3 separate regions of the Homo sapiens genome follow, and all the other regions are reported to be linked to region 3. Evidence: microRNA targets listed by miRTarBase, many of them from high-throughput screens and not tested one by one. Region 3 holds a microRNA gene; each other region holds the end of a gene's coding sequence.

Region 1 (4,000 bases), not on the chromosome of region 3:
TCCCCTGCAGCTAGCTGTAAGAAAGACAAAAATAGTTCAGCTGTGGAAATCAGGTTGGTTAAAAACTCAGCAGACTCAATCACAGCAAACTGTGTTAATTAAAAAAATCATAGACCAGGAAGATACAGGAAACCAGGATCAGGAATGGGGAAGGGAAGAGGAGGAACTGATCCAGCCCCTGTGAGGTAGCCCATAGTATAACGACCAAGGGTTGGGGACCTCTGACTTGGTTCTGGAATGCACTAATATATCCAAAGGCATCTAATTCTGGGTTGGGGTAAGACTGTAATTCAACTCCATAAAATGAGGAGGCATTTGGCTGCTGCCAGAGGTTTGGAAATGTGCTTTTATTTTCAAACTCAGGTATGTGACACTCTACAGTTCAATGCTAGCACACCTGTGTGAGGCTTAACAACATGAGGAACTGATAGCCAGTGATACACAAATCCAGCACTTCCTCTCCATTTACTCTGTCAGGCTGTATATGGGGAGCAACACATATGGCTTTGTGGCAGCCAGAAAGTGAAGGTCTTTTTAGGAGGTGACATCAACAATGACACAAACACATCACTCTGCAACTGAAGGCAGGGAACCAGACTCCTAGGGCTAAGCAGAGATGTCAGACTTCAGAGGCATTTGGGGGACTCTTCAGATCCACATCCTCACTGAAAATCCAGGGCCTGTTTCTCTCCAGTTCACTACCGCTTGGGCAGCAGCTCCCACTGCTTCAGGCTGGTCTTTGCTTTCCAGAAAAGATGGACTCATGAGCACTTTTTCAGCCCCTGTATATATGGCTATTCTTATGCTCCCTTTTGGAGATGTCCTTTTCCTCGACCTCCCTTGCTTACAAATGGAATAGGGTGGGAGAGGGCCTGTGCCTGGAAGTACTCTTGCAGGCTTTTCTGTGGGGCAGCTGGAGGTGCAGGAGCTCTCCATAACTGCCTTCCTGGCCTTTGACTCATCCAGAAACAAAGGTAGGAAACTTGTGACCAAGTGAACAATGGGGCCAGCTGAGCCTGGCCCTGCTTTAAGGGAGGCAGAGATTGAACATTCCCCACCTGGAGTTCTGCTTCCACGGCCACTCTCTAGAACTCTATTTGCATCCTGTCTTTGGCTCTGAGGGCCTCATGTAGCTAAAGCTCCTTCAGTTGTATCCAGACCCCCTGGAAGAGGCCGGGCAAATCATCCACTTCTGCCCCCAGAGTCCCTCTGCCCTGCTCTGTAACTCTTTACCTTAATGGCACATCCTTGATCAACCCTGGCTTGGGCCTCAGTCATTTTCTAGCTACTGTAAAGGATGCCCCCTTCAATAAACATGCTATTTTAAAGTGGGGCATGCTTGGGGTGGGGGGTCTCTCTGAAGGAGTGACTGCATTGAGCCCAGTCCTTGAGCTTGGCAATGGTGTTGCTAGTCTGGTCTCATTCCTGCTCTCTCACAGAGTAGACTGAAAAACAGAATAAGCTGAGGTTAAGAAAGATGTTGCTTTTTGCATTGTGATGGTGCTGGTACTGAGAAGCATGCAGCATGTCAGCTGTCCCCAGGCTGCTCTCCACCACCTTAAATGTTTGCTTGTTCTTTTGAGCAACATTTAATGACACCCTCCCAAGCGTCAGCCACCATGCTAGGCACTTACCCAAGAGATGGGTAAGACATGGTTCTTGTCTTTGAGGAAAAATGCTAGGGGAGATGGATACATAAATAGGCCATGGTATACTATAGGTAAAGGTCAATAATAATAATGTTTAAAACGTGCCAGAAAGCACAGAGGAGTGTGTGACCTATTATGTTGTGTCTGGTGAGGAGTATGGAAGGAAGGTCATCAAAGCTGGTATGGAGGGGATAATTTTTGCACTCGGTCGAGAAGAGTGACCTGAAGAAAAGAGAAGAACAGCTGGAAAAAAAACTAGTGAGTGGAGGTCCAGCACTATGAGAGAAACTGTTTAGTTGGGGAGCCAGAGATGGAGTAGCTGATGGGCCACTTGGGGGAATGAGACTGAAATGTGAGGCTTCCAGCTAGGAGACCATCAGAAGAGTCAAGGAGAGCACAGCTCTGGAGCCAGCCTACCCTGGGGTTGAGCTCCAGCCCCATGATTTACTACCGGGGTGTCCTTGTCAAGTTACTTGTTCTTTTTGTGCTTCAGTTTCCTTATTTGAAAATGGGAAGGGTAATATCCACTTCGTATTTTTTTTTCTTTTTCTTCAGGACTTAAATGAATTCATACCTATGTAATACTGAGAACAGTGCTTGGCTCATAGTAAGTCGTATATGAGTTTTAGCAATGAAAGCAAACAATATCAATAACAAAACAAAAATGCAAAACAATGACAACAAAACCCACATGGAAATCAAACCTCTACAAAACTGATGAAGGCAGTGGCTGTAAAAGTGGGGAGAGAAGTCAAAATGGAGAGGGGATGTGCTCCTTCAGTGTTGTGCTAAATAACTGGGGATGCTCTGAAACACCCCTAATTATACTGGGGTTGGAAACCCCATTTGAACTGAAGCACTGAGGTGCAAGTTTACTCTTGCATGTGGTCACACACAGAGTAAGAGACTGAAGCAGAAAGCACATCTTCTCTCCTCATTCACCTGTGAGGTGGGTTAACTGTTTTCAAAGAGAGAATAGGGAATAGATTGTGCTGTACAGCAGCTCAGAGTTGGCATTTGAAATGGAGACTAGTAAGTCTGCCATTGAAGCCATGAGTTTTCTGTGTTTTTAAAACATCTTCAATCCATGTGGACAGCTCATTGAACAGGTGCCTGGTGACTGCCCCACACTGGTGAAAATCTGTGGGTTGGCTTGGCATGCATCTTATTTATCCAGAGGTACACACCCAGAGCACACTTTTGAAGGGTTGTTGGCTCTGTGCACAGGCATGTTGTGTGTGTGTACACAACAGTATGTGTGTATGTGTGGACAGATGCGTATATAATAATTCATATCTTCCCATTTCAAGCACTGAGCTAAATTCAGCCTATACTTTTTTTTTTTTTTCTGAGAAGCCTTTCCTACTTCTGTAAAAAGAAACTCTCATTCCAAAGGAAAGAATGGGAGGCTGAAGTTATTGAAAATGAGATGGGAAATGGGAAGATAGTCACTTTGCAACTCCAAATTCCAGGTCTGATGCTTAGGGTGTTAGTCATTAAGCAAATTCTTCCTGATAACCAATTACAGAGAGGAAAAAAGAGAGTAAGTTTTTTACTGCCCCCTACCTCCTCCTCCCCCGTGCCCCGCTCCTTACCCCCAACCACCAGTGAAGGTGTTTTAGTTCTCCCCAGCCACCTGAGCTAGGGGCAGGAGACCTTCCCTTCCAATAGAGTTCCTTGGTGAAGGTGACTTCTTCATCCACTGGATGCTTTCCCAGGGCAGTTTTGTTGATCCTCCAAGAACATCAAGTCACTGTGTATGAATAGCTCCCACAGAAGTGCCGAGTGTTAAAAGAACCCTTCCTCATGACCTGATGGGATGGGCGGCAGTGTGTCCACACTTGGGCCTGACGTTATACTTGGGGAAAGGGTGGTAGTCTGAGTGTCTCAGAGCAGGGCACTGGCTAGGTGTGAGGTTTCCTACTGCTCTGTAGGCTGCTCATGCTGGAGTCCTGAGCTCCACCAGGAGTCCCTCTGGGCTGCCGAGCAAGTGGATCTTCCAAGGGGCCCATCAGCCTGCTCTGCACAAGAGTTATAGGAATTGTAGAGCCCCAGCACAACAGTCAAGACCAGCATCACTGCAGCCATCATCCAGATCACTTGCCAGTGCTGACACAGTTTGGGATACATGACTTGTAAGAAATGGACCAATTCTTCAAGTTTGCTGTCAATGAAAAAAAATATGCAGAGGCTTTAGTATACTGGGCACACATATGATACACAGACCCACAGTTCTCTCTGCGGATAGCTTCCATGCTGTCTTGAGCAATAGTTCTCAAACTTAGCTGTGCCTAGATTGGGTTGGCAGCAATTGTTCAAAATACCCCAAGCATACTAAATGAGAATATCCA
Region 2 (4,000 bases), not on the chromosome of region 3:
ATATATATAAAAAAACAAGGAACTTGGTAATGTACACTTTACAGAAGGGAAGAATCAGGAAGACTGAAATTAAATTCAACAGAGCAACGCCAATGGAACAAAATCTATGAACAGCAACACTGCCCCTCCAGCCCGGGCCTCCAGCTCGCCCCAACCTGCTCCCAATGGGAGGGCTGAGCACCAAGGCAAGCGGGTGGGCTGGGGCAGGAGGGGCTGGGGACAGGGCCTGGGAGGGGCTTGATCCCAGGAGGGGGGCCCATGGTAGGAGATCACTGGAAAGCTTCCTGGGATGCCCAAGTAATTAAAACAAACAACAAAGGCCCAGAATTATGGGGCCAACTAGCTGCCCAGTTGCATCTTGGGGGCATCAGAGTAGACAAGGGGATGGTGAGAGGGTATACGGGATAAGTGACATGGGTGGCCTCAAAGCCTGTATGAAATAATTCTCTAGCCCTCTGCAGTCTTAACTCGCAACTCTAAGTCCTGCCATGGCCCCTTAAACGTGGAAAAAAGAGACTCAAGAAATCACCATTTCATTTCATAGGGTGCCCTCTTACCCTTCTAAGCGTGTGGTTCTTTGACCTTGTGATGTGTGGAGAGAGTTCGGTAAGAGAAGGAAATTTCATACATGTACATGTACAAGGCAGGAAAAGGGGATGAAGGGAACTGCCATACCTTAAAATGAGGAAGTAGTTGATGTGGATCCTAAAGAGCAGCTCTCCAAGCCTTGCCTGATCTATCTGGGGATGAGGCCCCCTCCCTCTTTAGCTTCTCCTCTATGGGAAGCCCCGTGAGCAATGTCTGTGAGGGCCTGGGCAGGGGTGGCTCATAAACAGGCTTGGTCTGGTGGTCTTGGCCCTTGGTAGCAAATTTTTCCAGCCTTTGTTTGTGGGGTGGGATAGGATGGGGACCCCTGCTGAGCATCTCATCCCTCTGACTAGGTCATGGATGCCACAGGTAGCTCCCACCTGTGTTTCTCCTCCCCATGTAGAGGTGGGCAGCAAATCTTTCACTCAGCACTTGTCAAGAATCTCCACAGCTGCTGCTTCATGTTATTTCAGAGGGAAGACTAGGCCCGGCAGGCATCAGGATCTGCCATGGTGGCTTTCACCTGCTCTTCTGAGCAGCTCCTACTCTTCAGGGGAGACTTGGATATGAGGATCAAAGAGCCAAATGTTTAAGAAGAAAAATTAAAAAGGAAAAGAAAAACCTGTTCTCTTCTGGAGAACCCAAGGCTGCCCAGCTAATACAGAAGTTCGTCCTCTGTGTTACAGAATGAGTGGAAAGGGCAGGAATGCAGGGCCATGCCTGCCCAATGCAAAAGAAAATTACTCCTAACGGTTTCTTTACAATATATACAGAGTATGCTGCAGGCCAGTGCCACAGATACAAAACACACAACAATATTTAAAAACAAACAGGAACAGAGAGGGAACCTTGGCTCCACCTCACAGGAGCCCCAGGAGGGCATAATCAGGCTGAAATTCAGTCACCCTCTTGGTTGGGGTGACTCAGGTGGGGTGGGATGACGGTGTCTGCACTAGCTACTTCCACGGAGGAAAGGGAGGTCACTGCTCAGAGCACTGCCCATGAGGGCAGCAGAAGGCAGAGGGAATGATGGGTATGAGGGAGGCTGTTTTGGGGCCCTGCCAAGAGGTCTAAAACAATGGTTTTTGGGGAGGACTCAGAACCCAACTTGAACAAAAACGAGGAGGCAGAAACCTAGGGAAAAGGCCTGTAGATCAGAGGGGATCCTCTTGAGCAGATGGTGACCCTAAGCCTCTCAAGTGTAGGGTTCCAGGGTCCTTGGAAATCAACTACTACTGGGCATTGTGCTTACTGTCCCCTATTTCCCATTTTCCAAACTGAGTCGGAGCCAAGTTCCTGCTCCTAGTCACTTTTGGCACTCTGGTCACACACTCCCTTTTCCAGCCTACACTGGTGTCTGTCAGTCTTTATCTCTCTCTCTCAATCCAGAGGGTCATGGAAAGATAGGAGGGGAGAACAGAGGGATGATACCTCAAAAGCCAAGTAAGCTAAGCTCCCCACACCTTGGGGAAGACATGACCCCAATAAAGCTACCAAATCATCCTCACTTTCCCAGTACAAAGAGTATAAAGCTTCCATTGGGAGACTGCATTTCTAAGGAGAGCAGAGAAATGTTGGCTGCCTCAAAGCACAGCTCCACTGAGTACATTCTGAGACTCTAATAAGTAATGGCTTGGATGTGTTATTCCAGGGTCTAAGGAACAAATAACCTCCCATGGCCAGTGGCCCCTCAAACAAAATATGTGTTACCAAGAAACACAGCTTATATTGGCCCACATGGAGGTTATAGACTGAGCTATATAAAATCATGTACTTGTAGACAGAGGAATTGGGCTGTATATATCTGTGGCCTCAAATGAGGAAGATATCAGATGGCTAGATGACAGGACATCTCCAAGAACTGCTGGGTGCTCCCAGGGGCTGCCTTCTGGGCCTTGCCCTAAGGTGACCTGGCAGACTCCAAGGTTCCCCAAGCTGGGGGGAATACTAGTTTATCTGCCTGAGGCTTAAGAGCCAAGCAGTGGAAAAGAAGAGGCAAGACCAGTGTGGGGATCCCCCTGGGAAAGGCACCAAGGGGTTAGGAGGGAAGGGAAAAGGGCAAGGAGTTGGGGAATAAGAAGCAGCAGGACTTAGTGGGGACGCAGGTTCTACTTCACAGACGTCATTCATGCTCCAGCACCAGCTTGCTCCCAGTGTCCCTGGGGAGCCCTGTGCTGGTGTTGGAACCCCTGCCCCCTGCCTCACAGGCAGCTCAAGGCCATGTTGGGGCAGATGCCTTGGTCTTCCTTTCCAGGCTAGGTTGTGAGCGTTTATATGTGCTCATGTAAATGGGGAGAAGTCTCCACATTTGAAGACCTTGTTTTCACAATTATGTAGAAAACAACCCCCAATTTCTTTCCTGAGATTCTAGTTCCTCCACATGCTGCCAATTCCCAGGGTGCAAAGCACTAGGGAGATGCAGAATCTGGTGATGGTGGTAATGATGGTGAGGGGTATGGCTGCTGTGCTGTCTTCAGACCTTACCCAGTGCTTGGGGGTGGGGGTCCCTCCCTGGTGGGCGGGGGGGCTGGTACTGCTCCAGCAGCAGACCAAGGGCTTGGGGAACAGAGCAGTGGCTTCTCTGGGCTGAGGCCATGTTCCCCTGGTTGCTTCCCGTGCCTTCATCTCCACAGAGGCCACAATAGTCATAACTGTGGCTGAGAGAATAAATATTTTTGCTAAGTACCAGCTCTCCAGCTCCTGAGGAAGAGGTAGGGTCAGGTAGTCCGGAGGTCTGGTGGAGGTGAGATAGCCAAGGGTCTGCCTTCAGTCATGGTGGAAACGGCAAACAGGATGATCAACACCATTTAACTGATGTCTAAACGGCACCTTCAGCACCTCCTTGGGTAAGCCAGTCCGGGCCCGTGAAGCTGACTTTATCCGGGCACTTGGTGTCTGCAAGGGAAACATGGACAGATAACCAGGCACTCAGCCTGTTGGTAAAAAAACCACAAGGTGGCACTCCAAGAAAATGAATTGTAGGAGTGGCCAGTACTGGTCCCTAGGGGACACTGTGTTCCACAGGTCCTCTCAGATGCACATGGCTTCACGGGAGACTCTTGTACAAGAGGCTTGGCCAGGGTTCCATGGATTCCAGACTGCTGACCCCTCATAGCTATTTCTCACCTAGGGATTCTGTGATCCAGGTAGCAACTATCCCGGCTTTATGTGTTGCCCCAAATTAATAAAAGTGACTTACCATTCTCACCTCCTGGGGGGTGGGTAGAGTGAGGGAGTTGAGCCTTGTTGGCTGGCAACAATGGCTGTAGAAGAAAGCCCTGAATAAGCAGGAGAACATGTTAGTGTAGCACTCACAGAAACCTTCCATTAATCTTTTTCCCTGAGTTTTGGGGTGCTGACAGAAAAAAAAATCTGATACTCAGCCAGATATATTTGCTGGAGATAGATAATA
Region 3 (4,101 bases):
GACCCCTCCTGCGCTAAGAGGAAGCAGAAGTGGGCCGGGCACAGGGCGGGCTCACACGTGCTGATAGGTGTCATACCCCAGAATGGGTAGCTTGTCCCCAGCCTCTCCCCGGGGGAACTAAAGCTTTGTGGGGTCAGGCCCCGCCCTGGCTCCTCCCCGAGGTGGTGCGCGGCCCCTCAAGAGAGGGGGGTGGGGGGCAAAGCTGGCTCAGTGTCTCTTGGCTGTCCCGTCCCGCCCCGCTGCCCAAGCCTGGGGATGGCCGGGGCAGCAGCAGGTCTAGGAGCGGGCAGGAAAAGGGCGGGGTGGAGGCAAGAAAGAGGTGGGACAGGGAGGAGGCAAAGCCGGAAAGGGGCATGACAGGGGCAGGGAATGGGGCGGGGCAGGAAAGGGGGTGATGCAGGGGCAGGAAGAGGAAAGCGACAGGCCACAGAATTGGGTGTGGCAGGGGAAGGAAAGAGGCAGGGCACGGAATTGGGTGTGGCAGGGCAGAAAAGAGGCGTGACAGCGGCAGGGAAAGGGGCGGGGCCGGGAATGGGGTGTGGCAGGGCAGAAAAGAGGCGTGACAGCGGCAGGGAAAGGGGCGGGGCCGGGAATGGGGTGTGGCAGGGCAGAAAAGAGGCGTGACAGCGGCAGGGAAAGGGGCGGGGCCGGGAATGGGGTGTGGCAGGGCAGAAAAGAGGCGTGACAGCGGCAGGGAAAGGGGCGGGGCCGGGAATGGGGTGTGGCAGGGCAGAAAAGAGGCGTGACAGCGGCAGGGAAAGGGGCGGGGCCGGGAATGGGGTGTGGCAGGGCAGAAAAGAGGCGTGACAGCGGCAGGGAAAGGGGCGGGGCCGGAAATGGGGTGTGGCAGGGCAGAAAAGAGGCGTGACAGCGGCAGGGAAAGGGGCGGGGCAGGAGCAGGAAAGAGGGCCTAGCGGGAGCAGCGGGGCAAGGGGCTACGGGAAGGCGGGTCACACAGCAGCACCACGGAGCACACTGCTCACATATCCCAACGTAGCTTCCTCTGCTTGCCAGGTGAAGAGCATGTTCAGGGAGGGAACAAGGCAGGAAACGGGGGTTTACAGAGAGAAGGAAGAGAACAAAGAGAAGGCTGCTTAGTTGGGGAGCAGGGCGTTCCCCGCAGGCCTGAGGAGGAGTGTGGGCGGTCAGGCCCCCAGCCCTGCCTGACCCTCCCTCCTGCCCCCGACCAAGGCTTCCTGGGGCTGAAGGAAGTGAGTGCAGCCACAGGCCAACACTTCCTTGGCTGACCAGACGACGGAAAATGTGTCTGGCTGCGTTCAGGTGTTTTTCCAAGTTTGAAACCCTGGAAAGTTTTTCCTCTCAGAACAAAAGCTTCAGGAGGAACCTGACGGGACAAGACCTGCGGGTTCCTAGGCCGAGGAGAGGGCCAAGCGGAGACTCATGCAGGCACCGGAAGCTGGACGGCTGGTGGACGGGCCCTGGAGGCATTTCCAACATTTGGCAAACTCTTTGGAGGGCTCTGAATGTGAGGGCTCTCCCTCCAGGTGGCTCAGTCAGGAGCCTCCCAACCCACAGAAGGCAGGGAGAAGGGCAGGTCCCTTGTGGCTGACCCCCCTGCATGCCTGCCCTTGGGGAGGGACAGTGGGATGCGGCCCCGGCCCAGCCCAAGCTTCTTGCTGCAGTTGCCCAGTTCCTGCTGGCAGAGCTGTGCGGGCTGCGAGGACAGAGCTGGGGCAAGCAGGACCCGGGTGGGTGGGAGGACAGGCGCGAGGCCCTCCACCTGCAACCAGGGAAAGCTGACTGGTCCGTGAGGCTGGGCACAGGAGGTACAGCAGGCTCCCTGGCTGCTGGGACATGTCTGTAGTCACTGCCCCAGAGGCCTGGCAGTGCTGGCTCAGGAGGACAGCTGTGCTCTCTGGGGTCAAATCCCATAGACAGACTCAGGAGTCAGGGGAGCCTCCAGCAAAGTCTGGCCAGGACAGGGTCAGGACTCCGTGACGCTGGGCAAGCTACTTCACGTCTCTGTGCCTCAGTGTCCTCATCTGCCAGCAAGGGGAGGCAGAAGCAGGGCTGGGACCACTCCACACCACCCCTTCTGTGACTGGGGAAGAGCCAGCTGCCTGGCTGGATCACAGCCCAGACCCCAGAGCTCCTTGGAGGTGTTGGAAGTGCCTCCATCTGTGCAGACAGCTGTGCAAGTCTTACCTGACGCTGAGTTCACGCTGTGGCAGCAACACAGGAAGACACAAGGGAACGGTGGCGCGTCAGTGACCAGGGCAGGCGGCCAGGCCACCCCCACCCAGGAATGGACATGCTGCAGGCCCGCGGGGACACAGCCAGCCATGGGGGGTGGCAAGCTTCTAATGCCTGTAACCTGGGGACCACCTGGGCCAGACCTGCAGTTCTGCGTTGGGGCAATCAGAGCCAGGACCCTGGGCTCTGTTCTGCAGGCCTCAGGCCTTCAACATCCTGGTAGGGAGTGTGTTCAGAGCCACTCAGGCTCCAAGGCCCAGCCATAGAATGCCTCAGGGAGCAGGGGACCTCTGGTGGGGGTGTCGCTCCTGGGGTGACCCCCTGAGAAAGAGAGGAGCCTGGCCTGGCGTGGGACTCAGCAGTGAAACCCCACAATCCTGGGCCAGCAGGTCATGCCTGTCTTCCCAAAAGCTCAGGCTGGGTGTGCTGAGCGGGCTGCACCCTCGGCTGGGTCCTGAGCACCTGTACCCCCACCCCAGCTTCCTCAGGGAACCCAGGCCCTGCACAGCACAACGGGATGGGGTCTGGGCTGGACAATCTGACTGGCCAAGCAGGCTCAGGACACTCAGGGCTGGCACCTGGCAGGGGACAGTGAACGCAGGGGGATGAGGTGACCAGGCCACTGGGGGTGGTGGCAGCGGAGAAGTGGGTAGAGGGGCTGGGGGCTAGGCCGTGGGGACGTGGGACCCCGCTCACCTCCTCCAGCTGGCTGTGCACGTGCTGCACAATCAGGTCGATGGCCACCGTGTTGCCGCTCCCTGGGGCGGGATGGGGGGGCGGGTGACCGGGGGCTGGGCCGTTGGCCTGCCCGACACCCACCCAACAGGCAGCCCAGCAGGCTCACCTCTGGGGACCACGATGTCTGCCAGGCGCATGGTGGGCTGGATGTACTGGTCGAAGGAGGGCTTGACAAACTTGTTGTACTGCTTGATGACACCCTCGATGTCCCGGCCGCGCTCACTGATGTCCCGGCGCAGCCGCCGTACCAGGCGGATGTCGGAGTCTGTGTCCACAAAGATCTTCATGTCCAGGAGCTGGTGGAGACAGCGGGCCAGTGAGTGGCCAGATGCCAGCAGTGGGCATGGAGACACTGGGACCAGCCCCTGCACTGAGGCCGCCTGGTCCGTGGGCCTGGCCAGAGCCACTTCCCCAGGGCACCCTGGCAGGTGGGGAGGAGTGGGGAGGTGGGGGTGTCTGCACCTGGTCCGTGGGCCTGGCCCGAGCCACTTCCCCAGGGCACCCTGGCAGGTGGGAAGGAGTGGGGAGGTGGGGGTGTCTGGGGATGCGGTGCTGCCCGTCAGGGGCTTAGGTGAAGAGGCATGGCATGGTGGCTGGCTAAGGAATCAGGCAGGAATGGGGCTGGGCACATGTGATCTCCTTACTTTGCTTGGGGTAACTTGCACCAACACACTGGGGAATGGGGGACGTGGCGAGTTTAGGGTCTGTCCCCATGCTCAGCACACAGTAGTTGGCCCGTGAAGAGGCCTTGTGGAGGCTGGGGGCTGCTATGTGCCGGATGATGGAGTCCTCTGGGCCTGTACAAGGGGCAGGACCTGGGCCCTGGGATCAGGCCAACCTGAGTCACACTCAGCTGTGTCCTGAAGGCCCCCTTGAGCTACAGCAAAATCTCTCAAACACACCAGCCCTGGGTCCTCACCTGTCCGTCAGGACCACGGCAAGGGACGAGAACGCCAAGGACACTCCAGGTATGCGCACAGGCCTCAGCCGGTGGAGAGGAACCACTGCCTCAGGCAGCCACGCTCTGCCTTTTGGGGCCGGCAGATGGACCCAGCTGTGGCATGCCTGGGGTTGGGGTTGGGGTAGGGAGTGGCTGGCCTAGGCCTATACAGTGTGGAGGCCTTGGGGACAGGGCAGGAGGACGCACAC

Evidence for each region. Region 3 holds the annotated microRNA hsa-miR-647 (GUGGCUGCACUCACUUCCUUC, at 1,205-1,225, opposite strand). A microRNA usually pairs through its seed, bases 2 to 8, with sites in the 3' UTR of a target mRNA and lowers its output. Matches are read on the target gene's strand: a 7mer-m8 pairs with bases 2 to 8, a 7mer-A1 pairs with bases 2 to 7 and ends in A, and an 8mer does both.
Region 1: the mRNA of IRAG1 is a reported target of hsa-miR-647. The part of its 3' UTR that is shown has no 7-base or 8-base seed match.
Region 2: the mRNA of ZNF609 is a reported target of hsa-miR-647. Seed matches in the 3' UTR shown: 7mer-m8 at 3,045-3,051 and 8mer at 2,163-2,170.

Annotation. Positions count from the first base shown.
Region 1 is chr11:10,572,763-10,576,762 of GRCh38, forward strand. IRAG1 (inositol 1,4,5-triphosphate receptor associated 1) reads right to left here. Exons shown (of 21, transcript NM_130385.4): 21 at 333-3,813. The coding sequence ends at 3,570. The region is part of intron 1 of IRAG1-AS1 (IRAG1 antisense RNA 1); the gene reads left to right. Among named protein-coding and RNA genes, the nearest start is that of LYVE1, 6.1 kb to the left of the region's middle.
Region 2 is chr15:64,681,175-64,685,174 of GRCh38, reverse strand. ZNF609 (zinc finger protein 609) reads right to left here. Exons shown (of 10, transcript NM_015042.2): 9 at 3,788-3,866; 10 at 1-3,483. The coding sequence ends at 3,793. Among named protein-coding and RNA genes, the nearest start is that of OAZ2, 20 kb to the left of the region's middle.
Region 3 is chr20:63,941,487-63,945,587 of GRCh38, forward strand. MIR647 (microRNA 647) reads right to left here and starts at 1,240; the gene lies at 1,145-1,240. It overlaps UCKL1 (uridine-cytidine kinase 1 like 1), which reads right to left. Exons shown (of 15, transcript NM_017859.4): 6 at 3,059-3,248; 7 at 2,911-2,972; 8 at 2,167-2,183. MIR1914 (microRNA 1914) reads right to left here and starts at 58; the gene lies at 1-58. RefSeq lists enhancers at 832-1,545, 1,546-2,257.